Homo sapiens: one gene and its partners. The protein of the gene in region 1 purifies or fractionates together with the protein of each later gene. This does not show direct contact. Each region holds a gene or a part of one and is shown in the gene's direction. Other genes may lie near its edges.

Region 1 (7,281 bases):
TTATAGAATAAGAACTTACCACCTTCAGAGAGAGCATTAATGTATTCGTGAGGGATCCACCCCCATGACCCAGATACCTCCTATTAGGCCCCACCTCCAACACTGGGGATCAAATTTAAACATGGGGTTTGGTGGAGACAAGCCACAGCAGCCCGCCACAGCTGTGGCCATACCTTTGCATATAACTGTGAGGACAATGGTGGGTCTGGTAACCTGGGAACCCAGAAAGACCTGCAGATTCATAGGTCCTATCTAGTTATCTGTACTCTACCAATAATGAGAGAAGTTCCTTGGGCTAGAGGCCACAACCTGGTGAGACAGTGGCTTCTGAGATGGAAGAGAGCTTGAAAGGGAAGTAGCAGGATAAAAAAAAAAAATCTCTGTCCTCCATCCCTTTTAATGTTTAACCCCAGATACTTGCCTGTATGAAGGAATTCAGCTCCAGTCAACAGCAGAACCAGAATTCTCAACTGATGATGGAGATGTATCTGTCCCAGGACCAAGAAAGTTTAGGGAATAACTTAGATTTAGAGCCAGGGATAAAGAGTAACTGCCCAATGAGGGTTCCAAAAGCCAGGGTAGTAGTCCTTGCTCCTAACAGCCAATAATCTCTCCCCGAGGATTCACTACCCCCCAATAACAAAGAAATAAGACTGGGAACTGGGAGATACCTTATTTGTCATCATTAGGTTTGCAGGACCCAGCATAGCACCTGTGACACAGTAGGAGATGAATAAAGCTATGCTAAATTGAGAAGCCCCAGGCCCAGCAAGGCAGGCAGCACAAGCACTGGGTTAAGGTCTGAGTAGTAGGAGCAAGGAAGAGGGGCTTTGTGCCCTTTCTGCTGTGGCAATTCTTGCTCTGGAGACTCATCCCCTTGCAACCTAGAGTTGGTTGGGGGTATTTTTGGTGGTGGGGTGGGTATTTATTTGTCTTAGGTTCCTAGTGAACATAATTTTTTTTTTTTGAATTGTAAGTTATTTATTTTTTGAGACAGGGTCTCATTGTCATCTAAGCTGGAGTGCAGTGGTGCGATCGCAGCTCACTGCAGCTCCACCTCCTGTCAGTCAGCCTCAACTGCCTGGGCTCAGGTGATCCTACCACCTCAGACTCCCAAGTAGCTGAGACCACAGGCACACACCACCATGCCCAGCTACTTTTTCTATTTTTTTTGTGGAGACGGGGCTTTGCCATGTTGCCCAGGCTGCTCTTGAACTCCTGGCCTCAAGCGATCCACTTGTCTTGGCCTCTCAAAGTGCTGGGATGACAGGCGTGAGCCCTAGTGAACATAATTTCTTAAGTGGAAAAGGGAACTTCCCACATCCAGGCCAGGATCATTGAGTACAACTATCACAAGACCACAATTTCTTCATTAATAATGACTTTATATAATCTCTAAGAGCTCTTCCAGGCCGGGTGCGGTGGCTCACACCTGTAATCCCAGCACTTTGGGAGGCCGAGGAGGGCGGATCACGAGGTCAGGAGATTGAGACCATCCTGGCTAATATGGTGAGACCCCGTCTCTACTAAAAATACAAAAAAAAATTAGCCAGGTGTGGTGGCGGGCGCATGTAGTCCCAGCTACTCAGGAGGCTGAAGCAGGAGAACGGTGTGAACCTGGGAGGTAGGGCATGCAGTGAGCCAAGATCGCGCCACTGCACTCCAGCCTGGGCGACAGAGCAAGACTCTGTCTCAAAAAAAAAAAAAAAAAAAAAGATCTCTTCCAGCCCCAAAGTTCTATGATACTAGTTAACTAAAAGAGGGGAAATAGGATATTAATTCAACAAATACTTATTACTATAACCTTATGCTAAAAAGTGAATAAGGTCTGCCCTTGGGGAGTGTAAAGTCAAATGAGAGAATAAACACTAAATCCTTGTAATGCTGTATAAGGGTTGTGTAAATAATAGCATATATTTCTTGAACACTTACTATTTGCCAGGTGTCATTCTAAACACTTTACAACTGAACTTCACAATTCCACTTCCATTAGATGGGTTTTCTTATCTCCACTTAGCTAAAGAAACTGAGACATAAAGAGGTTTAATAATTTGCCAGTAGGTAACAGAGCAAATAATTTGGCTTCAGGGTCTATGTTCAATCAGTCAGCAGTTAACAGCATTATTGATGGAAGATTGGGAGGAGTGTGCATGAAGGCTGTCACACTTTTGCTACAAGTTCCTAGTGATCTTGTGACATTAAGTGGGTTTAGGTCGGGGTTCCCAAGCCCCAGGCCATGGATGGATACTGGTCCATGAGTGAGCAAAGCTTCATCTGTATTTACAGTGGCTCCCCATTGCTCACATTACCACCTGAGCTCCGTCCGCCTCCTGTCAGATAAGCCGTGGCATTAGAGTCATATAGCAGCATGAACCCTATTGTGAACCACACATGCAAGGGATCTAGGTTGTGGGCTCCTTATGAGAATCTAATGCCTGATGATCTGTCATTGTCTCCCATCACACCCAGATGGGACCGTCTAGTTGCAGGAAAACAAGCTTGGGGCTCCTACTGATTCTAAGTTGAGTTGTATAATTATTTCATTATATATTGTAATGTAATAATAAAGTGCACAATAAATGTGCTTGAATCATCCCAAAACCAGCCCCCGCATTTCCACCCCGTGGAAAAACTGTCTTCCACAAAACCAACCCCTAGTGCCAAAAAGGCTGGAGACTGCTGGTTTAAATCACATTTTCTTTGGCCCTTGGTGATGTCCACATCAGCATAACCAGGAGAAAACCACTTCGTTGTTTTTTTGTTGGTTTTTTTTTTTTTTTTTTTTGGCTGGGGGGTGGTTGGTTGGTTGTTTTTGAGACAGCGTCTTGCTCTGTTGCCTAGGCTGGAGTGCAGTGGCCTGATCTCGGCTCACTGCAACCTCCGCCTCCTGGGTTCAAGCGATTCTCCTGCCTCAGCCCCTGAATAGCTAGGATTATAGGCACCCGCCACCACGCCCGGCTAATTTTGTATTTTCAGTAGAGATGGGGTTTCACCATGTTGGCCAAGCTGGTCTTGAACTCCCTACCTCGGGTGATCCGCCTGCCTCAGCCTCCCAAAGTGCTGGGATTACAGATGTGAGCCACTGTGCCCGGCCAGAAAACTACTTCTTTGGAGTCCACAGGCAACTGGGTACAAATTCCAGGTTTATCACTTAACTGGTAAACTTGACCAAGTCTAAGCTTCATTTGTTTAACAAGAATAACTATTGGCTTCATTGGGAGGTTATAACCATTAAATACTAAGTTGAGCTATATGAACCTGCTGTTTCTGGAGGCAAAAACAGTCTAACATCATGGGGAGTGGGGGGAATCTACCAAAATGGTAAGGATTCCTTTGTGCTTTTGATTTTTGAAAACTTCAGCCCTAAATTCTTCCTTTTCACCTCTCTTGCCCAAGGCATAGTGCCACCCAACGGTCTGCGTGGCCCTGGGAGCTCGGAGGTTGCACACTGTTGACCTACCCTATTGAAGCCAGTAAGTTAGTCAAGGGACAGCCTCATGAGATTTGGGAGTTCTACAAGGATCTGGAGTTTCTTTCCAGCCAGTCACAAGCACATCCCTTGGGGGCTAGAGAAGTCAAGAGCCCTGACACATAGCCTACCACACACAGACTCAGAGTGCACTTTCACCCTCCTTTTCAACGCCTATTTGCCTCACTGTACAATGAGTAGTGACATTGGCTCTATTTTTAAATGTGGAAACTGAGGCCTAGAGAGGGTCAGGTCCTGTCCAATGTCACAGGCACCAATTGGTGTTGGAAAGAAGGTGGGGTTTGGCGTCAGATGGATCAGCGCAAGCACTGCCTCTAGATGTGTCACCTTCACAAGGTTCTTTAACTTCTGGGGCCTGTTTCTTTTGCTAGAAAAGGTCGCTGATAACGCTTGTCCTCATATGACTCTTCAACCCAAGTCTGCTCTCTGGCAGCCCCACATGTGGGGAGACCCCCAAGGAGACACTGCGAGAAGCACAGAGTGCGGCGCGCCAGGACTCAAACCGTGGGCACCCGACCGACGCACACGCGCAGCCCCACGACAGTATCAGTATTTAATTTCCACTAGAGACAGAACTAAGCCTAACCATCACCAGGCTCAAGCCGCCTACCCCAAAACCGAGAACGGAACTGCCCGGTCCCCCCGAAAAGAAGGGCGGAACATTTCGGCCAAGTCCTCAGACTACCGAACCGGAGAGCTCCGAAAGGGGACTACCTGCGCCTGCGCACCGCCATCTTGTTAAAAGAGCCCGCCTCTCCCTCGGCCGGTCACTCTTTCGCCACGGGCGGGGTTGCACCATCCGGCAGGGCGGGGCCCGGCCATGGCGACCGCGGAGCCCAGCGGGCGCGCGTTGCGGTTGTCTACCCCGGGACCCCGGCCCAGCGGGGCTCGGGACCGCGCGCCGGGAGCTGCGGGGCCACCCTCCGGGCAGATCGGTAATAGAGCCCTCCGTCTGGGGGAGCGCACCCCCGCGGCCGTGGAAAAGCGGGGGCCATACATGGTGACGCGCGCACCCTCCATTCAAGCCAAGCTGCGTGAGTGTGGCCCGATGGTCGGGGGAGGTTTCTCCCTGGGCGGGCGGCCGCGTCCCCAGGGCGGGTTCCGGAGCTCCGCTGGGCCTCGGCCCCGGAGGGAAGGGGTTAGCTGCAGCCTGCTCTCGCCCCTCAAAATCCGTTCGGAAAGAGCGGCCTCCCAGCCTTCGGGAGACGCGGCGGAGTGGGGAAGACCCGGCTGACCCGGGTCCTTTAACTTCCAGAGAAGCACCGGGACCTGGCCAAGGCCGTTCTGCGGAGAAAAGGCATGCTGGGGGCCTCGCCGAACCGCCCAGACTCTTCAGGGAAAAGGTCTCAGCAGGCGCCACCTCCTCTGTGCCAGCAGCTTTAGAGAAGGCTTTAATCCCCAGGACGGAGGCAGGGTGCTCTGGTTTAAGGCCGAGCTAGCGATTCCCCTGATGCAACCTGTCAGGTTCACTATCTTTAAAATGGGAAGAGGAACAATCTCTCTTTTCCTTTAAGGATGTGATAGGATCAGATAAAGGGCTTCGGAATAAGGGAGTTCTGTGAGTGCACAGGCTCATTCACTATCATTCTCCTCCTCTGTTAGGGAGGAGAATGGTGGCTGGAGTCCCCAGCAATGAGGACGAAGAGCAGTGTGGGAATGGCTAGACCTGTTTTTGTTTGTTTGTTTTTAACAGAATAGTAAACTCGGAGCTGCATAGAACCTTATTCAGTGCCTCCTTTTACAGATGAGGGTTGAAACTCGGAGAAGTGAAGGTTAACCCTAACCTTTTACCCAAAGACTTGCAGTTTTTGTGTCCTCTGATTAAATAAGTGGGGAGAGGGTGCTTTTCCTAGATCAGGCAAGGGGAGGTGTGCTTTTTTCCAAGACCTATGGGAGGAGTAGAATACAGGCCGGGCGTGGTGGCTCACGACTGTAATTCCAGCACTTTGGGAAGCCGAGGCGGGTGGATCACTTGAAGTCAGGAGTTCGAGACCAGCCTGGCCAACATGGTGAAAGCCCGTCTCTATTAAAAATACAAAATTAGCTGGGCACGCCTGTAGTCCCAGCTACTCAAGAGGCTGAGGCAGGAAAATCACTTGAGCATGGTAGGCGGAGATTGCAGTGAGCCGAGATCGCGCCACTGCACTGCAGCCTGGGTGACAGGGCCAGACTCTGTCTCCAAAAAAAGAAAAAAAGAATGAGAACATACACATTCTGAGGCACTGTAGCCAGGTACATGGAGCTGCAGGCAGTGGTGGCTGTGACCAGGGAGAAGGCAAGTCAGTAGTGCAGTCAATTCTTTCTCCTTCAGGGCGAGGACTCTGCCTATCCCTGTGAAATGCCTATGCTTTCATCTATGTTTGGTCTCTTCTCCCCCGTCTCCCCTCAGGTCAGTGAAGTTTAACAAGGGCTATACTGCTCTTAGCCAGAGTCCAGATGAAAACCTGGTGTCCCTCGACTCTGACAGGTGAGTGCTCCCCTTGGAAATACCCCCTTGGGAAGCAACTTGGCTGGGACTGAAGATCGCCTGATGCCTTTGCTTGTTCCCTGTCTCCTCCAAGGCCCTTCATGTACATTCCAGGGCCGTTCTCTTCTGAACAATATCCCTTCCCAGGATGGCTTGGTTAGAAGACTCATAGGTAATCGTGCTGCTCTAGAATTCGGAGCACCAATGTCCGGGGGATCATCCTGCCCTGTTATGTTTGCATTGTTAGTGAGAGTGACCCTGTCCCTGCCAGAACCAATTGAGGGAACCAGTATTATTCAAGGCCTGTTCGGACTTGAGTTCTGTTGTGTGTGGCCTTTGCTTCAAAAGTCTTCCAGATGCCCTTGCATGCTCTCCGCCTGATGATTTACAGCTGTGCACCACAGGTACCTCCCGGAACTGACTGTTTTCCTCTTCTCCTAGTGATGGGGAGCTGGGATCCAGATACTCCTCCGGGTATTCATCTGCAGAGGCAAGTCCAGAACACCTTTCTGTGCAGGGCCAGGCTGCAGGCAGCATTACCACCACTGCCAAATGCTTGTTTGGTGCCCGCTGTGAGCACAGCACTGTGCCAGACTTCTGGTCTGTTCTACGATCTTCCACTCTGCCCTCTTCCCCCGGTGGAGGTATAGGTGACCAAGGAGGGCTGTTGAGAATCGAGGAGACCATTTAGACTCAGGGCTAGAAATGATCTCAGAAGTCATGTAAGCTGGGCATGGTGGTACATGCCTGTAGTCCCAGCTACTAGGGAGGCTGAGGCAGGAGGATTGCTTGAGCCCAGGAGTTCCAAGACCAGCCTGGACAATATAGCAAGACCCTGTCTCTAAAATAAGACTCTAAAATAAAAGTCTTCTAGGCCACAGCTTACAAAAGGAACCCTTTTGATAGATCCCAGCTAAGTGTTTGCTAGTCTGTGCTTACTTGAATGCTTTTTGTAATTGGGTACTGACCACCTCCAAGGAGCCTTGCTACCCACCCTTCCCTCAACACACACAGAATTTTTTCTTTGAGTAGCTGTTAGAGAAATCTTCCTTATTAATCTGAATGGGTCCATTGGTCCTTGACCTGCTTTCCAGTGTCACACAGCAACTCTAGTTTCTCTGAGATCAGCATTTCCGTCTCTCCCCTGCCCATCTTTCACCAAGCTTGCTTTCTTCCAGACCAAACAACTTCTGTTTCTTCAGTTGTTCCATCTATGAAAACTCAGGCTAAAACACTCCTGGGATAGCCATGTAGACATTTTTCTAGAGTGACTGTCCCAGATAGAAAAACAGGGATGTAAAATCCTGGCAAGTGAAGCCCATTC
Region 2 (7,024 bases), on another chromosome or scaffold:
GACCCCCATTGTTACGGCAGTGCATTGTCATTCACTTCACATTCTCCCAGTGTTGAACATTTTGGTTCTTTTTTTTTTTTTTTTCCTCCTGAGACAGCATCTTGCTCTGTTGCCCAGACTAGAGTGCTGTGGTGCAGTCTTGGCTTCCTGCAGCCTCAACCTCCCAGGTTGAAGCAATCCTCCCACCTCAGCCTCCCAAGTGGCTGGGACTACAGGTGTGCCCCACCACGCCTGGCTAATTTTTGTATTTTTTGTAAAGGTGGGATTTCACCATGTTGCCCAGGCTGGTCTTGAACTCCTGAGCACAAGCAATCATCTGCCCGCCTCGGCCTCCCAGAGTGCTAGGATTACAGGCATGAGCCACCGCGCCTGGCCTCCCTTCGTATTATCACAAACCCTGAAAGGAATATTTTGTGTTTAAATCTTTCTGTGCCTTTCAGACTGTTTCCTTAAGCCAGAAATTAACTTTGGAAAGGCTCTTAAAGGTGCAATAACACTTTAAGTAGCAAGGTTGTATCAGCTTAAGAGTTCAAGGCTGCTTGTTTGATGAAATTGGATGTGTGCGTCTGTTCCCTGGGATCTCTATGTTTGGGTGCAGGGTGGATTGTGCAGCCCCTCAGCCTAAGACTTGGGGTCTATACTCTTCTTTTGTGCCTTGGTTTATGCTGATCAAGGCCTGCAAGTATGAGTCTAAAACCTGATCCTTGTGTTCTAAAAACCTCACAGGGGCAGATGCCATTGCCACAGGTCACTATGCAAGAACTTCCCTGGAAGATGAAGAAGTCTTTGAGCAGAAGCACGTTAAGAAGCCCGAAGGGCTTTTCAGAAATCGGTTTGAAGTTAGAAATGGTAAGTTCATGTGCCCAGGTCAGAGCCAAATTCTTGTGAACAGATTGAAATCTTTGGAGGAATGACAGTGGGTTGTGCCTGAGGATCACTGCCACCCCTCCCTCTGTGCTCCAGAGTAGCTTGTATGGGATTCACATTTGAAAAGGTGCAGTTACCAAGAGGACATTTTCCCGGAGGGCCTGTGATTGGGTAGTAAACAGTGTCCCTGCCGGCCATGGTGAGGGCTGGTGGAAAGTGACATCAGATACTGATAATCCAGCTCTCGACACTGTGTGGTGATTTGAATGTTCCAAAAATATCTGGGTAAATATTTGACAGTGATAATTGGGGTGCTGTCAGTCTAGCCAAGGACCTGTACTTAGCAACAAGTTCTCAAGGGCGTGCGGTTCAGGCAGACTTTCAACGTGCTGTGAGCACAGGACCTGCTGTGGATCGCATGGGCTCAGCAGTCAGGCTTTGTAGCCGTATTTACACGTTAGTTTATGCGTGTTAGGGAGCCAAGTTTCACCTTTCTAGAAAAAAGTCAATGGCAGACAGTGAGCTGGGAAGCTGCTGGCCTGTCCTGGTGTACATTCGTGTGTAGAAAAGAGGAATTCCCTGTATTGTTGAGTGAAAAACCAAGTGGGGCTCAGAGCCGTGTTTCCGCACGGAGCGTCCGTCCATCAGTGGGGACCCCTGAAGGGCAGCCTTGCTCTTTTGTCCGGAAGTTCAGATGTTGGAGGGAGCCTTGTCCCGCCATCTGGGGAATAGGGGTCTCTGGGGCTGGGGCAGGGCTTTACATACACACATTTCTTTTTTAATTATTATTATTAATTTTATTTTTTTGAGAGAGGATCTCACTCTGTCAACCGGGCTGGAGTACAGTGGCCCGATCTTGGCTCGCTGCAGCCTCCACCTCCTGGGCTCAAGTGATCCTCCCACCTCAGCCCCACCAAGTAGCTGGGACCACAGGTGTGCGCCACTATGCTCGGCTTTTTCATTTTTTGTAGAGATGAGGTCTCGTTAATGTTGTCCGTGCTGGTCTTGAATTCCTGGGCTCAAGCGATCCTCCCACCTCGGCCTCTCAAAGTGTTGGGATTACAGGTGTGAGCCACCAAGCCCGGCCTCACACGTTTCACATCACTCCTCTTAGCAGTCCATGAGGTGTATGCTCTCATCCCGTTTCACAGATGAGGAAACCGAGGCCCGGATGAAGCCATCTGACCTGGGTCCCTCGGGTGGCAGAGCTGGATTTCAGTGCACTTCCGCTCACTCCCCAGCCCCTGCTGCTTCTGCTGGGTCAGGCCCCAGCTGAGTTCTTTCCTCAGCGTTGCTGAGCCCATCCTGAAGGCTGCAGTGATGGGGCAGGGCCGTGCTTGGTCAAGGGAGCCCTGAGTGTGCCAACAGTCGTCTGCCGCCCTCTGTTCCCTCCTCGCCTTCCTTCCTTATGCCACAGGGTGATCAGGTAACTGTACTGACTTGAGCCCAGAGAAGAGCAGCCCACTCCCGTAAGACAGCCCCCCATTTCAGGAAGACATGGGTTTGAATGCAGATAAGACAGCCCCCCATTTCAGGAAGACATGGGTTGGAATGCAGAGTCCTGCCACTTGGGAACTCCAGGGTGGAATTCACCAAGTAATTGTGCATTTACGGGGCCTGAGGAGATGGAGGGTTAATTTCCATGTTGAATAGATGCGCCTGCTTACCTCCTAGAACATTACCTCCTAGAACACTGTGTGCCCTGCAGAGCCATCGACCTTTATTATAGGCCACGTGCCCTCGGAAACTTGGGACAGTACTGATGCGTTCTGTTGAGTGCGTTTGGCATGTGGGAATTGTGATGGTGCACAGTGTCTTGGCCTTCACTGGGTTTTGTAGGCACACTAAGGTTTCCATTTCATTCTTCTTCAGTTGCCCTGGCCCAGCCTGGGTCTCTGGGTAGAGCACCTGCAGGGGCAGTGGACGGCCTGGGCTCAGGGTCGGTCAGCACCTGAGACCAGCGCTCCTAGGCCTGGCCTGTGACTGGGCTGATTTTCCCCCACACAGCGTGCTACCACCGGCCTGGCAGAGCCAGCACGGCAGCCGGCGTGTCAGTGAGGCTCCAGCACAGGCAGCCTCCTCCAAATGTTGTTCATTCCTTTCTGTGCTTTTTCCTCTATAGCAGTTCAGTTAGGGTCGCCAGCTTGCTTTTTTGAAAATCATAGATTTTTAGTTTGTTTTAAAATGACGCAGAACTAGGAGAAAATGCAAATGGCTCCTAGTTTTCTGAGGCTTTTACACACATGCAGTGTTTGACTGCAGTTAGTTTGGGATTGAAAGTGGACTCTGAGGCCAGGTGCGGTGGCTCATGCCTGTAATCACAGCACTTTGGGAAGCCAAGGCAGGCGGATCATGAGGTCAGGAGTTCCAGACCAGCCTGGCCAACATGGTGAAACCCCATCTCTACTACAAATACAAAAAAAAAAGTTAGCCGAGTATGGTGGCACATGCCTGTAGTCCCAGGTACTCTGGAGGCTGAGACAGGAGAATCACTTGAACCCAGGAGGCGGAGATTGCCGTGAGCCGAGATGTGCCACTGCACTCCAGCCTGGGCGACAGAGCGAGACTCCATCTCAAAAAAAAAAAAAAAAGTGGACTCTGGAAAGTGCTCTGCTTCCGTGGCGACTGGTCGGCTGAACTTGGTCTCACTTGTCACTCAGTTCTGCTGTTTGTACCTGCCAAGTAAGGGAGGGGGACTCGGGAGGCTGGGCAGCCTCCAGCCCCACCGCCTCCACCTGCATCACTTTGGGCGAGTCATATGTGATGAACTGGGCCGGCTCCAGTCTCCCCTCTGTAACGTGGGGAGAATTCTCCCTCTCACGGCTAACGTGGGAATCGGCAGATGGAAAACACTAGCTACGCAGAGTGTGTACTGTACACGTGGCTCTGCCAAGCCAGGAAGGGTAGGTGTGCTGTCTGACCGTCACGGCATGTGGCGTGCTCTGAGTGTAACTCGAAAGGAGAAGTTTATGAGAAAGATTGAAAGAAGCCAGAAAACTGACGTTCGTCTTAGTTTTTTGCCATTGATCATTGAACTCGAGAGTGGAGAACTGGACGGTTCTAAGCCAGGTTTACTCACACCTCTGCTCCGTTGCCTTAAAGCCAGAAATGGTTCTTTACAATCACATAGGGAATGTCGGAGGAACTGCAGGGTCACCTAACAGATGTCAGCTGAGACTCTCAACAAAAAAACGTTTTTACCAAGAAAGCTAATGCCTTCACAGGTAGGGCGCTGCTGGAGGCATGTGCTGGCCGCCGGGCAGTGAACCTGGAAAGTGTAGAGTCCTTGAAACCACTGTGGCACGAACACATCCTGTGGTTGTTGGAAGAAGGCACAGCTGACACTATATCAGTGGAATTTTCTGCCAGCAACTAGCTTACTCCATTTTCCAAGATTTGGCTGAATTTATTTTAGGTGTTTTTTTTTTTTTTTCTTATCACTTGAGAACATTTTTTCATGTGATGTTTCATCTTTGAAAATATTATAATCTGAAGTATGAGCTGGAATAATTTCTTTGTCATGTAAAATCCTTGTTTTTTTTTTTGGAGGTGCGAATTTTTCTTACATTAACCCGTGGTGGTCTTTTCCCTAGTAGTTGCTATTGAGTGTTGATGTCTGCCTCTGACAGGCTAGGGGTAGTCTGTCTAAGTGAACAGAAGGACATTGTTGAAAGTGAAGTATCATTATTTTTATTCCTGCATCGTCTTTTGTTCTTTATTCTTGGCAGCGGTAAAACTCCTCCAGGCAGCTGACAGCTTTAAAGACCAGACCTTCTTTCTCAGCCAGGTTTCCCAGGATGCCCTGAGGAGAACCATCTTCCCTCTGGGGGGATTAACGAAAGAGTTTGTAAAGAAAATCGCTGCTGAGAATAGACTTCATCATGTGCTTCAGAAGAAAGAGGTACGAGTGAGCAGTTGCCTTTGATTAGTGCCTGTTTCCCTTTCCCGACTGCATGGCACGGAGCAGCTGGACCTGTGGGTCCCGCACCACTTCCCCTTCTCCAGGACCTAACATCAAAGGCGGGCCTTGGAGCAATAGATGGAGGAGTTTGCTGAGGCGCACGGTACAGGGCTCTGCTGACATCGGGAGCAGCCTATACGAGACTCCTTGCTTTTTTCCTCTCCTCTGCCCCTATGTGGTAGGCAGCTTTCCCCACAGCCTTAGCAGCTGGTGGGGTGCTCTTGGGATGGCCTGCCTGCCAGGTGAGTGCCAGGCAGTGTGATGCAGCCCCGAGACCCCTGGAGGGGCAGGTGCTGTGCCGCCGTCTGCACACTCATGTGCCCTGTCACCCGCTTGCCCGGCACAGACTCGTTCGGTGCCATCTGTTCGGGCGCTGTGCTGCTGGGCCGCGAGGAATTGGTGACGCGCACACAGTTCCATCTTCGCCTCCATGGAGCCCGCCCGCGAGTGGGGGACACAGGCAGGAGGCCAATCAGTGTAAACCTAGAAAATGTCTACGGAGGGAGGTGTAGGACCCTGGGTGGGAAGCACCAGTGGGGTCTGAGAGTAGGGAATGGAGATGCCAAAAACGGCCTCAAAAGAAGTCACATGGAACCTGAGACCTGAAGGAGGAGAGGATCCGGTGTCCCAGAGAGGGCTGGGAAAGTCCAGATGAGGGAACGGCAGTGCAAAGGCCTTGAGGCGAGGAGAAGCCAGGGAGCCGCTGTGGGGGTGCCTGCCTGTGGCCCCAGCTCCTCAGGAGGATCGAGCGCACCCAGGAGTTTGAGGACAGCCTGGGCAACACAGCGAAACTCGTCTCAAAAAGAGAGAACCCGGAGTGTTGGCGGAACTAGGATGAAGCCCGTGGGAGGGCCTTGGGGATGGAGGGCGAGGGCGCTGTGGGATGAGCCTCACCTCTTCAGGGGCCAGTGCGGTGGGAGCTGTTGCTCCTTCGTGTCTCTTCCTGGTAATGGAAACGGCCATACCTTTCATCAGAGCCATCTTCCCTGAAGAGCACGCCCACCGCCCGTCCTCCTCTCCTCTTGTTTTCCGTTTCCGGTGTCGCTCTGTGGTGGGAGCCGCAGGGATGGAAGGGCAGTCTTGAGAGACACAAACCAGAGTAAACGATGCAGCCCCTGATGGGGCCACGGTGGAGAGCGCACGCCACCCAGGCTCCCCAGCTAGGGCAGATGTGCTTGAGGAAGGCGCCTCTCTCCTCTGACTCCCCTGGAGCCCTCCCCTAAGGCCTTAGCTTCAGGCCTGGCTTTCCTGCTACCTGCCCCTTCTCTGGTCCCTGTCTCTCCCCCACTCCTCGCAGGACAGTGGCCTGAAGGACCTGACCGGGTTCTGCTTTCTTCCCCGGGGCAGCTGGTGTGAGGGTCTCCCGCGCAGGGTCAGACCCCGCGGGCCGAGACAATGAGGCGTTCTCTAAGGCTCTGGCATCGTGTGCGCCGGCTGTGACTGGCGGCCGAGGGTGCCGGTGGGCAGCCGGGCCCCTACCCTGGAAGCAAAGTGTGGGGTGAGGCCGGGAGGCCCCAGGGCCCGCTCAGGACGTCTGGGTACAGCTTGGGCCACCGCCACTTCTGCTCCTCTCACGGCTGCCGTCTTCTCATTTCAGAGCATGGGCATGTGTTTCATCGGGAAGAGGAATTTTGAACATTTCCTTCTTCAGGTGCGTGCTGCTCTTTGACACAAAGAGATGGGGCTGCGTGTCTGCCCTGGGCCTAGATCTCCGTCGGTAATGACATGTTTGTTTTCCAGTATCTGCAGCCTCGACCTGGTCACTTTATTTCCATAGAAGACAATAAGGTTCTGGGAACACATAAAGGTGAGGTGCAGACTCTGCCACTTGTCATCTGAAATGCCTAGAGCTGTGGCGTTTCAGCTCTGGGAGACTAGACCAGAGTTCCTGTCGTCCCTTCCACTTGGCTGGAGAATTGTAGAAGGCTCTGTGGGGCGGCCGGGGGCGGGCACGGCCTAGGGTGGAACAGTTGCCTTGATGGTGGCTGGGTGCACTTCCAGATGTGGCCTCAGCTGAGATGCTGGAGTTCATGAAAAGCGCGCCTCTGACTTGGAAGGACTATACTCTGTGAGTTACGTATCAAGTCCCTGTAAAAAGAATGATTTCCTTCCTGTGTAAGGAAAATGTTAAACTACACAAAACTCCACTCTGATTCAGGGAGTAAGGTGGACGTCCCGGCATGGTGTGAATGATTA
Region 3 (7,024 bases), on another chromosome or scaffold:
GCGGATCACCTGAGGTCAGGAGTTCGAGACCAGCCTGGCCAACATGGTAAAACCCCGTTTCTACTAAAAATACAAAAATTAGCCAGGTGCAGTGGCAGGCGCTTGTAATCGCAGCTACTTGGGAGGCTGAGGCAGGAGAATTGCTTGAACCTGGGAGGCAGAGGTTGCAGTGAGCCGAGACTGTACCATTGCACACCAGCCTGGGCAACAAGAGTGAAACTCTGTCGCCAAAAAAAAAAAATAATGGTGATGGCTACACAATGTTATAAATATTAATGCCAATATTGTAAATATTAGTGCCACTGAATTGTACACTTTTAAATGGTTAAAGTGGCAAATTTTGTTTATATATATATTATTTTTACTGCAATAAAAGTTTTTAGTGTGATATAAATAAAACAATTTTCTAAATTAAAAAATGAGATTTATTTTTATATTGTAAATATTTTTATATTATAAATGCTTAGTTTTTAATGTTTTACTAATATCTTAATCAACCTATATACTTGGGGCATTTAATTTTTAACAGTAATGGATAGAAGCTTATACTTCAAGTAGTAGCAGTAGTCTTGATGATTTAAAAGAATTTTTTTTTGGCTGATGTTGTCAGATATAATAGATTGTTTTTAACCTGTGGCTGCTGAGGAGCTCACTAAGAACAGAAGCTGGCTAGGCGTGGTGGCTCGCACCTGTAATCCTAGGACTTGTCTGAGGTTGGTGGATCCCTTGAGGCCAGGAGTTCAAGACCAGCCTGACCAACATACCGAAACCCTGTCTCTACCAAAAATACAAAAATTAGCCAGGCGTGGTGGCTCACACCGGTAGTCCCAGCTACTCAGGAGGCTGAGGCAGGAGAATCACTTAAGCCAAGGAGGCGGAGGTTGCAGTGAGCTGAATCATGCCACTGTACTCCAGCCTGGGCGACAGAGTAAGACTCTGTCTCAAAAAAAAAAAAAAAAAAGTTTATTTTCTGACATTTTTATGTTTATTTGCACTTGTGTTAATAGAAGTATTTTCTTAATTTTTTAAGTTACCTTCCCATATTGTGAAGATTTGTTTATGTAAATTTAATGCTACCTGTATTCAACTACCTGTACATCTCACCTGCATAACTCTCATTTCAAACCTGTAATTGTTTTAGTAAAAAAAATGTTATTTATAGAAGTTTACTTTGCTGTTACAAGAAGATTTATTTTTCAGGTGCACGAGAAACAGACTACCCTGCAGGAGAAGATCTTTCAGAATCTGGTCAGGTAGACAAAGCATCTTTATGTGGAAGTATGACAAGCAACAGCTCAGCAGAGACAGACAGCCTGTTAGGAGGCATCACAGTGGTTGGTTGTTCTGCAGAAGGTGTGACGGGAGCTGCCACTTCCCCTAGTACAAATGGTGCTTCTCCAGTGATGGATAAACCACCAGGTATATCCATTCTCTTTACCTGCCATCTGTATAGAGTCTAAGGCTACACTCAGATGCCTCATTATGGACTTAATTTAGATCTTAAGTAACAAGGTTGAAAGAACTTGAAAGAAGATACTGTAGGCCGGGCGTGGTGGCTCACGCCTGTAATCCCAGCACTCTGGGAGGCCAAGGCGGGTGGATCACGAGGTCAGGAGATCAAGACCATCCTGGCTAACACAGTGAAACCCTGTCTGTACTAAAAAGTACAAAAAATTAACCGGGCGTGGTGGCGGGTGCCTGTAGTCCCAGCTACTCGGGAGGCTGAGGCAGGAGAATGGCGTGAACCTGGGAGGTGGAGCTTGCAGTGAGCCAAGATCACGCCGCCGCACTCCAGCCTGGGCAACAGAGCAAGACTCTGTCTCAAAAAAAAAAAAAATGCTGTAATGACTGTTAAATGGAATGAAGAATTCTTAATTTCATGGTACAGTGTGAAGGAGTGGGTAGATGGAATGGAATTCTATAACAGGGGTTTGTGTGGGGAAATAATTGGAGGAGAAAAGCCCAGACTTGGAATAGTGTTTTATTTACTTTGTAGAAATGGAAGCAGAAAATAGTGAGGTTGATGAAAATGTTCCAACAGCAGAAGAAGCAACTGAAGCTACAGAAGGGAATGCGGGGTCAGCTGAAGACACAGTGGACATCTCCCAAACTGGCGTCTACACAGAGCATGTCTTTACAGATCCTTTGGGAGTTCAGATCCCAGAAGACCTCTCCCCAGTGTATCAGTCGAGGTATAATAATGGGTCATCAACTTAGGCAACTGGGTGAAGTGCACAAATAAAAGGAACCAAAATAATCTCAAACAGTCAAAAGATTTCCACTAATTAGTGTCACTGTGGTGGATTAAAAGATACCTATTCTTGTGATAATTTCATGTATTCCCGCTCCATCATTCTCGCTGGATATTCCCCCCCATTTCTTCTGTACACCTTCCAATTTAAAAAAAAAATCTTATCTATAAAAGTATAATCATGCATCAGTCAACAATGGGGATATGTTCTGAGAAATGTGTCATTAGGTGATTTCATCATTGTGTGAACATCATAGAGTGCATTTACACAAATCTAGATGGTATGGCTTATCACACACCTAGGCCATATGGTATAGCCCATTGCTCCTAGGCTAGAAACCTGTACAGCATGTTACTGTACTGAATACTGTAGATAATTGGAACATAACGGTAAGTATTTGTGTATGTAAACATGCACAAGGTACTGTAGAAATATAGTAGTATAATCTTGTGGAACCACCACCATATATTCTGTCCATCATTTTCCAAAATGGTTTTACCAGGTGTGTGACTATATATTAGTCAAAATCTTTCTGTTCATTTTCTCCTCTGATCTGTTTTTTTTTCTTTTTTTTTGTACTTACTGTCTTCCATTCTATAAGTAATTCTTTGTCATTTTAATCCCACCCCTACTCTAATTTTCACTCCAGTTATCAGCAAAATTGGCCATTGTTTAAATCTGCCATTGTACAAGTTTCCCACATGGGTGTGGATGACCTTTTTGAATTTAGTTTTCATGCAAATATTTTATTAAAAAACAACTCAGATAGTTCCAGTGGCTCATGCCTATAATCCCAGCACTTTGGGAGTCTGAGCAGGAGGATTGCTTGAGTCCAGGAGTTCAAGACCAACCTGAGCAACATAGTGAGACCCTCATCTCTACAAAAAACTTAATGATTCGCTGGGCGTGGTAGCGTGCACCTATGGTCCCAGCTACTCAGGAGGCTGAGGTGGGAGGATTGCTTGAGCCCTGGGAGCTGGAGGCTACAGTGGGCCATGATATCACCACTGCACTGCCGCCTGGGAAACAGAACAAGACTCTGTCTCAGAAAACAAACAAACCAAAGAAAACTGTTTGTTTTAGGCTCCTCCGTTAAAGGGTTGGTTAATCTAGGCCCATTTAGTGAATTATTTTATTTTCTTTCCTGCCTTTTCTAGATCCCCTCTAGATGAGAGTCTCTTTAAACTAGATCCTTTTTAAAGTTTAATATTCTTAGTGTATAAAGTAAGAAAGATTAATTAATAACCCATTTATGCCTAGTGGTCCATTATTGGAATGCTAAGCTTGTGGGAGTTATTCATATCCTACTGCTCAAGGTCATCGCTAAGGTCTGATTTTTTACAAAAAAAATTTGCAACCTCCGGCATAAATGGGTTAATATTTAATTCTTTTTTTTTTTTGGAGATGGAATCTCACCCTGTCACCCAGGCTGGAGTGCAGCAGTGCAATCTCAGCTCACTGCAACCTCCGCCTTCCAGGTTCAAGCGATTCTCCTGCCTCAGCCTCCCAGGTAGCTGGGATTGAAGGCATGTGCTGCCACACCCAGCTAATTTTTGTATTTTTAGTAGAGATGGGGTTTTATCATGTTGGCTAGGCTGGTCTTGAACTCCTGGCCTCAAGAAATCCACCCACCTCACCCTCCCAAAGTGCTGGGATTATAGGCGTGAGCCACCGCACCTGGCCTGAATTATTAATTTAAGAATAAGTCATGTTTGAATTTGATAGCCTGGTTATATATCTTTTACTAAATATGCCCTGACAATTCAAAGGAAAGGTTTTGTGATAGAATATTAAACATATTTCAGTTTATTAATTTATTTTAGGTCATTCTTTATATTTCTCCCTACTATTTGTATGTGTGTATCCCTCCCTTCTCTCTCACTTGAGAAGAAACTATGACAAAACCCAAAATAAGAGACAGCCATAGTAATTGTCTGAATATTAACTGCTGTATTTCATTACCATGTCTTATTATCTTTTCTGCTCCTTGGGCTTCCTAGTTTGTTAATGTTATTTCTGGTACAATTGTTGAAATATGTGATGTAAGCTTTTGACTTTGGCTTTTCTGGAATTTTGGTGGTTTCTTTTTTTTTTTTTGACTAAAAGTTGAAGCCAGGTGTGATAGTGTGTGTGCCTCTAGTCCCTGTTATTCAGGAGGCTGAAGTGGAAAGATCACTTGAGCCTGAGAGGTCAAGGCTGCAGTGAGCCCTGATTGTGCCACTGTACTCCAGCCTGGGTGACAGAGTGATACCCTATCTCTAAAAAATAAATAAATAATAAACAAATGAACAAACTTAAATATAGAAGGATTCAGTCCCTGAAAACTATAACGATAGTTAAGTATACTCAGATTTCTTTCCTTTTGCCCTCCCTTTCCAGCAATGACTCAGATGCATATAAAGATCAAATATCAGTACTGCCAAATGAACAAGACTTGGTGAGAGAAGAAGCCCAGAAAATGAGTAGTCTTTTACCAACTATGTGGCTTGGAGCTCAAAATGGCTGGTAGGTGTCAATGCTTTTAACATTAGAATATGTTGTTTTACTTTTGCTTTTGAAATCAGAAGATAAGTAAAATATGGTAAACAAATACAAAAAGTGTGGATTAATGCAAAGAATTTTATATATACACACAATTTGATGTTATGTTGCAACTACCACATAAACTGGACTTGCACTGGTTCTGAATAGTAAGCCATATGTTTCTTTGTCACAGAATGTTCCCTTTCTATAATATTCTTGGAAGAAGAGGTATGTAAAATTTTAAAATCGAGGTGCTCCAGAAATAGAAGATCCTGAACAGCACAAAGACAGAGAATATTTAATTTATGTAGGCTAGAATGTGGGCAGGAAAACAGGGATTAAACCAACATTTTGGCTGCAGGAAGGCCCAATCCCAACTTTTAGTGAATTTTTTACTAAGATAGGTAAAACAAATCACAATCTGCAAAGTCAGATGATGATGACTAATATTATATGGTTTGTTCACTTTCCGGTTGTGTGGAGAGTTTTACAAAATTGTGCATTTACAAAGGTTAAGCAAGATTACTGTTGAGCATCTCTAATCCAAAATTTAAAACTCTTTGACCACTGTTATGATGCTGGCAGGTAATGCTCATTGGAGCATTTTGGATTTTTGAATTAGGAATACTCAACTGTTATGTATGATGTAAACATTCTAAAATCTGAAAAAGTCAGAAATCCCAAGCATTTCAAATAAGGGTTACTCAACCTGTAGTATGTCTTTTTCATATGAGTCCAATACTATAAAGTGAAGAGTTGGCAAACTTAGTGTAACTCTCTTCCAGTAGAGCATTATGGGCATTGTAGTTTGAATTTCATATAAATCTCCCCTGTCGTAAAATACCCTTGATTTCCCCCCCACACACACTTTTAAAAATGTAAAAAGTATTCTTAGCTTGCAGGCTGGATTAAAACAGGTGGCAGACTGGATCTGGCCTGTAGGCCATAGTTTGCCACTCCCTATGTGGGCCACTCTGTCATCCAAAAGTTATAGATCAGTGTAGTAGAGAGGTAAGGCAATTCAAAAAAAGAGTTTTGCCCAAGGACTAAGTGTGTGAACCTGACTGTGCATTGCACTAGTTCTTGCTTTTCAGTCTTCATATGTTTTTCTTTGCTCAGCAGCCTATTTCTTTACCTTAGGCCTACCCTCACTCTCATTTTTCTTTTCTGACCATTGCACAAAAGCAGCAGCACCTTTTCCTAAAATTTGTATGTTACTCTTCTTTCCTTCTGAATGAACTTCGCGATCATTGTTAGATATATGCAATGTCTTGATGTTCTCTATGCCTTACCAGTGTTGACTTTGTTCTTACAGTTTGTATGTCCATTCATCTGTAGCCCAGTGGAGGAAATGTCTCCATTCCATTAAACTTAAAGATTCGATTCTCAGTATTGTGTAAGTTTTATTTTGGAAATTCTTCTTGTTAAAACTATGCATTTTGGTATAAACTAGATTTTAAGACTTTGAAAGCTAATACATGTTTCACGACTAAATTAGTATCCAATTTGTTTGTTTTTTTAACCCTTTTTATGGAACTAGAGAAGTTAAGTGAGAATGAAACTGTATAATAGAAAACGAAGTAGAAAGGATAACTTGCTTGATTGAGTCCTCACCATACTGCGATTTATTTAGCACTGCAGGAAATAACCAATACCTATTAAGTTATGTTTATTTTAGAATATTCTTTATGGCTTGTAAATATGTTGATTGGGGCATTGATTACTAGTTCTTTTCTATGTGTTCACTGTAAAAAAATCAGACAGTTTATCTCTGAGCCTACAGGGCTGACTCTGTTGGTTCCACTCAAGGTGCATGTCTCTGGTCTTTAGAGTTTGTGTTGATTGTCTGTGATGAGAGGAGAACCTTGGGCCAGAAAGTGAAATAACTGAGATACCATTCATACTGTTTATTTAGTTCAGCTGACATTTTTTCATAGCAGGACATCCACAGTGAAGAAAGTGGTGTGTTCATTTATATTCAGGTGTCAGCTCCTTAACTCATCACAGATTGGCCCTTTGTGAGGCCTTGAACTAGTTCAGTAGCATGTGGTCCCTTCTGTATTCCTGAATGGAGAGTTCTGAACTCCCCTTTCCTGTTTGCAGACACGTGAAGGGAATCGTGTTAGTAGCCCTGGCTGACGGCACCCTTGCAATCTTTCACAGAGGAGTGGGTGAGTGGTGATGTGTGTATAACATGGACACTAATTTGTTGCTTTGCAAAGCATTTTTAAGTAGATTGGTTTATGTTT
Region 4 (7,024 bases), on another chromosome or scaffold:
GCTAACACGGTGAAACCGTCTCTACTAAAAAATACAAAGAAAAAAAATTAGCCGGGCATGATGGCGGGTGCCTGTAGTCCCAGCTACTTGGGAGGCTGAGGCAGGAGAATGGCGTGAACCCGGGAGGCGGAGCTTGCAGTGAACCGAGTTCGCGCCACTGCACTCCAGCGTGGGTGACAGAGCAAGACTGTCCTAAAAAAAAAAAAAAAATGCAAAAGCCAATGGTAGACCTGCTTACATTTGCAATCCCAGAACCTAAATGCAAAGATTATAATTTAATTTTCTTTATTACTTCCTTACAGAGCCCTAGAGTAGAAAGATAAACTAGGAAAAACACAGCAGCTCTAAGATACTGCACAGTTACTGGGTTGTAGTCACAAAACAAAATTGTTCTCTTCTCCCAAAAATGTGAGTAGAGACTAAATGGAGCCTGTCATTTATCTAGAATGATGTCAGACTCTCCAAAATCACTTACCAATAAGAGAGCAACTTAATAATCTCAATAAAGGCCTCATATTTTTTATTTCAGCTTAATGACTTTGTTGGTGACCTTTCCTGTTTCTTTATTTTTTTCTCTTACCTGTAAAATTGAGAAAACAACAGAAGCCTGCTTTGCAGAGAAATTTTGAGAAGTAACTATAATAGAACATTGAGATCCATGAGTGAAAAGTATGATAAAATGACAATGAATGAGATCTTTCACATCCCATTCAAACTCTTCTTGACTCCAGCCAGGGCAGGAGGGCTGTGTCATTCACTTTCTTATCCTATACCACGATATCCACCCACATTCCTTCTCACAGGCATTTGAGTGTCATTTGTTTAGATTTCAGAAGTGTGTGTTGATTGTTTCTAGACAACTCGAGAGATGATCGCTCGTTCTGCTGCTACCCTCATCACACATCCCTTCCATGGTATGTTTGCAGTTGACAACTGACCTTTCTTTTATAACCTGATCTCTCCTGACCACTTAGATAGGTTGACGTGGGAGTTGACTAAAATGCCTTGCCTGCATGTTTTTGTTTGCTTGCTTGTTTTGGCTTTTATCCAATTTATCCAGATAGCAAAATGTCTTTAGGTGGAAAATCTTTTTTTTTCCCAGGGCTATCAAAATCTATCTTAACATAGTTTTTTTTTGTTTGTTTGTTTTTTGTTTTTGAGACGGAGTTTCACTCTTGTTGCCCAGGCTGGAGTGCAATGGCACAATCTTGGCTCACTGCAACCTCAGCCTTCCGGGTTCAAGCAGTACTCCTGTCTCAGCCTCCTAAGGAGCTGGGATTACAGGTGCATGCCACCACGCCTGGATAATTTTTGTATTTTTAGTAGAGATGGGGCTTCATCATATTGGTCAGGCTAGTCTTGAACTCCTGACCTCAGGTGATCCGCCCACCTCGGCCTCTCAAAGTGCTGGGATTACAGGTGTGAGCCACCGCACCTGGCCTTAACATAGTTGTAAACATCTTTTCTCTATATTCCACAGTGATCACTCTGAGATCTATGGTACAGTTCATTGGCAGAGAATCCAAGTACTGGTAAGTATTTTTGTTTTCACATACTCAAGGAGATCTTTTGAAGCCAAAGTACTAGAATAATACTACTTTGTATTTTTATGATACCCTTACAATTTGTAGAACAAATTCGTATCTGATGTCATTTGATCTGCACAAAAAACAATAAAATGGGAGAAAATATACCCAGGCAGGTTTAGTAGCCTACGTAGGATTTCAGAGTAAGTTGCAGAGCCCCTGACTCCATATGACTATACCCCTAGGTAGTTAATATTTTCACTTCTATCTCCAAATTTAGCTATCTTTGCAGAGTGAGAGAGTGCTAGAAAAGTGTGAGGGAAGGAGGTCGTGGATTTGACCTTGTCCAATGTGATAATTGAAATTATTTTGTTTATAGCTCCAAAAGAATCTTAATATATTTTACCTTTTCTTCTTGTGTACGTAGTGGACTTTGTGATTCCATAATAACCATCTATCGGGAAGAGGGCATTCTAGGATTTTTCGCGTGAGTAAATGTTGATTAGTGTGTAATTTTTGCATGAGTGGGAAACGTTTTCTGAAAGTAAGAATAGTGAGTCTTTGTTTAATCCTTGGGGAAAACGTACTCCCTGGGCTTACCTCACGTTACATTCTATTTAGGCCCCTTATTTTTTTTTCTTTTTTCTCTGCAGAAAGGCATATTTAGGCCCCATATGACTAGAATTATCTTGTAAAGATCCCAAACCTTTACTTCTAGATACTTAAAACATTTGAGGCCGGGCGTGGTGGCTCACGCCTGTAATCCCAGCACTTTGAGAGGCCAAGGCGGTTGGATCACCTGAGGTCAGGAGTTCAAGACCAGCCTGGCCAACATGGTAAAACCCCACCTCTAGGTGTGGTGGTGTGTGCCTGTAATCCCAGCTACTCGGGAGGCTGAGGCAGGAGAATTGCATGAACCCGGGAGGTGGAAGTTGCAGTGAGCTGAGATTGCACCACTGTACTCCAGCCCGGGTGACAGAGTGAGACTCCGTCTCAAAAAAATAATAATAATTAATAAATAAATAAGGAATTTCTTTTTTTAACAAAGGACTTAATTCCAAGTTTCTACCCTTGTAGTAAACTCCCAATTCTATATAGATAATAAAATGAGAAAAATTAAATGTTGAAAAATGGGGAAATCATCTTAACTTGTATTTTCCTTACCGTAAAAGAGTAAGTTTTTGCAAGGCTTGAATTTACTTTGGAAGAACTTAGACTACTACCCTCATTCTTCTATGAGGAAAAATTTTGCATCATTACCGAAATGGTGTTTTTTGTTTTTTTTTTTTTAATTTTCAGAGTATCTCCCCATACGGATTTTGAATATCATAAATACCCTGTGAGATAGGCAGGACAGCTATAATTAGTATCACTTTAGAGATTAAAAAACATTGATGCTCTGAGAGTTTCATCTGCTGCCTGTCACATCGCTGCTGAGTGCTGGAGCTGGCATTTGAAGCTGGTCTTCAATCCGTGGGGAAATGCTCTTCCCACTATTCCATGCTGCCTCACCTAGGTCACCCAGACCCTAGAAATGTGGTTTTTGATGCCTCTCATCTGTATCTGTACTTGGGACCATTCTTGCTTTGTAATTTTTCTCGTCTTTTGCTCTGCCAAATATGAATATCAGATAGCTTAGCAAAATCATTTTTTTAAGCTAGTCAAAGCAAAACAATATTTAAGTCTCTTCTGCAAAGCACCTCGCAAATCTTTTGCCTCCCTGCTTACAGTTATGAATAGTAAGGTGAGCCACTGAGGGTATAGCCGACCTGCATTTTAAACATAGGAACAAAAGTCACTGGAGATCAGCTTCAAGTACAGCTGTGTTAACGAGAATGAACTAGGTATGCGGGCTGGATTCTGGTGTTTGATTCCTTTTTTACTTCCCTAGAATGTTTTGTGACCTCTAATTATTTGACAAACATTTGTACTGAAGAGCCTGTCATGTTACTGATCACATTTTTTGGTTCTTATTTTTATTGTTTCTTCATGTAGGGGTCTTGTTCCTCGCCTTCTAGGTGACATCCTTTCTTTGTGGCTGTGTAACTCACTGGCCTACCTCGTCAATACCTATGCACTGGACAGTGGGGTAGGTTGTGACCTTCGTGAGATGTGCTCACCTTGGCTTTAATCTGGCAGCTAGATTAGCTTTTAAAGTAAGATGGGCCGGGCGAGGTGGCTCACACCTGTAATCCCAGCACTTTGGGAGGCCAATGTGGGCGGATCACCTGAGATCAAGAGTTCGAGACCAGCCTGGCCAACATGGTGAAACCTCGTCTCTACTAAAAATACAGAAAAAATTAGCTGGGCGTGGTGGTGCGTGCCTATAGTCCCAGCTACTTGGGAGGCTGAGGCAGGGGAATTGCTTGAACCCAGGAGGCGGAGGTTGCAGTGAGCCAAGATCGCGCCACTGCATTCCAGCCTGGGTGACAGAAGGAGACTCCATTTCAAAAAATAAATAATAAATAAATAAACAAGATGACAGTTTGCTACATGCCAGACTGAACAATTATATAGCTAAAAATTATCAGTCAAATTTTCAAATGCTAATGAAATGAGCATACTGTTCACTGTAGAACGATACTGTTTACTGTAGAACGATACACGTTAAAAGTCCGTAAGATGTGACAGAGTATACCCAAGAGACTTAGCCCTGTGTTACTTCAGGGCTTTAAAGAGATCACTTCTTTACTGATACTTAACTTGAGAGAACCTGGGAAAGCAGGACATCTTTATGGTGTATCGGGGGCTTTTCATCTAATCTGGACTTAAGAGGGTGCCTGTATTGGGCTTTCTAGAAACCTCAGCCTTTTGAGAATCAGTCTTATCTAGAAGTTGTCTTTCTTATCTCAGCAGTTGTGGGGCCTCTTGTATGTCGGCAGCTCCATAGCATGATGATAAATTGAACACATCACAGGGTATATGACTAAATCCATGTTGTAAACCTCTTGAGTACAGAGAGGGATTTTCTTCAACGCATCTGGTAGAAAGCTAGCTGTGTAAAACAAAGGTAGTGAATTGTCCCTTAGATATACTATAAATGTGGTTTTCCAGGGACTGTATTTCTAGGATGTGTGAAAAGGTTATCAATCTCATTTTCTTTAGTATTTGAAATCCTTTTACATTCGTCCCTAAAGCATTTTAGTATAATATGAATTTGTCTGTTAATATTGAATCAGGTTGATCATTTTGACCACTGCCTTATTATTCTAATAATCAGTGTTTTATGGTTTTGTCCTCAAAATTAGTTTTAGACAGGTGTGGTGGCTCATGCTGTAATCCCAACACTTTGGGAGGCTGAAGTGGGAGGGTCACTTGAGCCCAGGAGGTCAAGGTTGTGAGATCACAGCTCACTGCACCTCCAGCCTGGGCAACAAGAGAGATGAGATCCTGTCTCAAAAAAAAAAAAAAAATTAATTTTCAAGCTGTCAAACTGATAATTTAGAGATAGACTATATTGACATGGAGAGCAAGGCACAGTAGCTCCAGCCTATGATTCCAGCGACTCAGGAGGCTTAGGTGGGAGGTTTGCCTGAAGCCAGGAGTTTGAAACCAGCCTAGGCAACATAGCAAGACACCGTCTCTTAGCTGGGCATAGTGGCTTATGCCTATAATCTCAGCACTTTGAGAGGTCAAGGTGGGAGGATCTCTTGAGCCCAGGAGTTTGAGACCAGCCTGGGCAAACATAGGGAGACCCTTATCTCAAAAAAAAAAAGACACCATTTCTTAAAAAATATTTTGAAATTAGCTGGGCGTGGTGATGTGTGCTTCAGGAGGTCACTGCACTTCAGCCTGGGTGACAGAGTGAGGCACTGTCTGAAAGAAAAAAAGAAAAGAAAAGAAAAGGAAAAAAGAATATATTGATGTGTTGTAGTGTTGTAGGTAATTAATTTAAGGCTCTTTTCCTATTTTAGGTTTCTACCATGAATGAAATGAAGAGTTATTCTCAAGCTGTCACAGGAGTGAGTTTTTTAAAATCCTTTTAACCTTCTAGGAATAGTTGTGTTTTGTTTTGTTTTCCTTTTAAATCTGGCTTGTGTCATCACTGCTTTAAGATAACCAGATGTCTCACTGGGACATCTCCCTGAAATTTGTTATATTTGTCAAAGGTAAGAATAACTCAGTTTTCGGCCAGGCGCCATGGCTCATGCCTGTAATCCTAGCACTTTGGGAAGGTGAGGTGGGCGGATCACCTGAGGTCAGGAGTTCGAGACCAGCCTGGCCAACATGATGAATCCCCGTCTCTACTAAAAATACTAACATTAGCCGAGCGTGGTGGTGCATGCCTGTAATCCCAGCTACTCGGGAGGCTGAGGCAGGAGAATCACTGGAACCTGGGAGATGGAGGCTGCAGTGAGCTGAGATCACGCCACTGCACTTCGGCCTGGGCGACAGAGTGAGACTCCATCTCAAAAAAAAAGAGAGAATAACTCAGTTTTCGAAGGAACCACAGACTCACATGTGAAAATAAAGAGAGTAAGGCAGAACCCCTGCCTCACATCCTGCATGGTTTGGTACTGCTTAGCTTTCATAAGGGGCGTGCCTTTCCTCCGAAATAATATTGTTCAGGCCAGACATGGTGGCTCACACCTGTAAACCCAGCACTTCGGGAGGCCAAGGAAGGAGGATCACTTGAGGCCAAGAGTTCAAGACCAGCCTGGGCAACTGAGCAAGACCCCATTTCTACAAAAGTGAAAAAAAAAAAAAAAAGCTGGGGCAGGCGCGGTGGCTCACTCCTGTAATCCCAGCACTTTGGGAGGCTGAGGTCGGGAGTTCGACACCACCTTGGCCAATTTGGAGAAATCTCATCTCTACTAAAACTACAAAATTAGCTGGGCATGGTGGTGCATGCCCGTAATCCCAGCTACTTGGGAGGCTGAGGCAGGAGAATCGCTTGAACCCCAGGAGGCGGAGGTTGCAGGAGAATCGCTTGAACCCAGGAGGCGGAGGTTGCAGTGAGCCAATATCACACCATTACACTCCAGCGTGGGCAACAAGAGGGAAACTCCATCTCAAAAAAAAAAAAAGTAGTTGGGTATGGTGGCGTGCGCCTATAGTCCCAGCTACTCAGGATCAGAGAATTCTTCTGGCCTTTTGTTAAAATGTTGGATGCAGTGGTGTGCTAAGAGGAAGAAGCATCTCCAGGCTCAAAACTGTAACTGTTGTCTTTCCAGGGTACCGATGAAGCGAGACAAGTGTTAGAGTGTCTCACCGCAGTGGCACTAGGCCTTTAAGGTAAAGGAAAGGAGAATAAAGACTAGGAATGATCTAATAACAGCTGCCTTGTTTCCATTTTACAGTTTTTTGCGAGTATGTTGACCTATCCCTTTGTGCTTGTCTCCAATCTTATGGCTGTCAACAACTGTGGGTAAGCACTTTGTATTTCTTATTCTAGTAGGTGGTTGACTGTATGCTGACAGGCGGAGCAGCCTTGTAGAAATTTAGGAAAGATGAATGATCAGTATCAATCTCTGATTGGTATTTTTTTAAAAAGGGGG

The links.
Region 2: the proteins of FAM219B (region 1) and TRMU purify together in Homo sapiens (affinity purification with mass spectrometry; 3 studies listed by BioGRID and IntAct, with this or other methods). This does not show direct contact.
Region 3: the proteins of FAM219B (region 1) and SPAG9 purify together in Homo sapiens (affinity purification with mass spectrometry; 3 studies listed by BioGRID and IntAct, with this or other methods). This does not show direct contact.
Region 4: the proteins of FAM219B (region 1) and MTCH2 purify together in Homo sapiens (affinity purification with mass spectrometry; 3 studies listed by BioGRID and IntAct, with this or other methods). This does not show direct contact.

The regions. Positions count from the first base shown.
Region 1 is NC_000015.10:74,903,830-74,911,110, reverse strand, and holds the start of FAM219B (protein FAM219B), read left to right. Parts: upstream 1-4,259; 5' UTR 4,260-4,310; coding exon 4,311-4,524; intron 4,525-4,745; coding exon 4,746-4,833; intron 4,834-5,879; coding exon 5,880-5,957; intron 5,958-6,051; exon of another isoform or gene 6,052-6,129; intron 6,130-6,398; coding exon 6,399-6,447; intron 6,448-7,281.
Region 2 is NC_000022.11:46,345,696-46,352,719, forward strand, and holds part of TRMU (mitochondrial tRNA-specific 2-thiouridylase 1), read left to right. Parts: intron 1-726; coding exon 727-849; intron 850-4,595; coding exon 4,596-4,768; intron 4,769-6,425; coding exon 6,426-6,479; intron 6,480-6,568; coding exon 6,569-6,635; intron 6,636-7,024. UniProt on the Homo sapiens protein: Catalyzes the 2-thiolation of uridine at the wobble position (U34) of mitochondrial tRNA(Lys), tRNA(Glu) and tRNA(Gln).
Region 3 is NC_000017.11:50,984,845-50,991,868, reverse strand, and holds part of SPAG9 (C-Jun-amino-terminal kinase-interacting protein 4), read left to right. Parts: intron 1-1,200; coding exon 1,201-1,419; intron 1,420-1,996; coding exon 1,997-2,192; intron 2,193-4,631; coding exon 4,632-4,757; intron 4,758-6,090; coding exon 6,091-6,171; intron 6,172-6,878; coding exon 6,879-6,946; intron 6,947-7,024. UniProt on the Homo sapiens protein: The JNK-interacting protein (JIP) group of scaffold proteins selectively mediates JNK signaling by aggregating specific components of the MAPK cascade to form a functional JNK signaling module.
Region 4 is NC_000011.10:47,625,544-47,632,567, reverse strand, and holds part of MTCH2 (mitochondrial carrier homolog 2), read left to right. Parts: intron 1-856; coding exon 857-914; intron 915-1,480; coding exon 1,481-1,532; intron 1,533-1,953; coding exon 1,954-2,013; intron 2,014-3,521; coding exon 3,522-3,615; intron 3,616-5,440; coding exon 5,441-5,488; intron 5,489-6,826; coding exon 6,827-6,894; intron 6,895-7,024. UniProt on the Homo sapiens protein: Protein insertase that mediates insertion of transmembrane proteins into the mitochondrial outer membrane. Catalyzes insertion of proteins with alpha-helical transmembrane regions, such as signal-anchored, tail-anchored and multi-pass membrane proteins.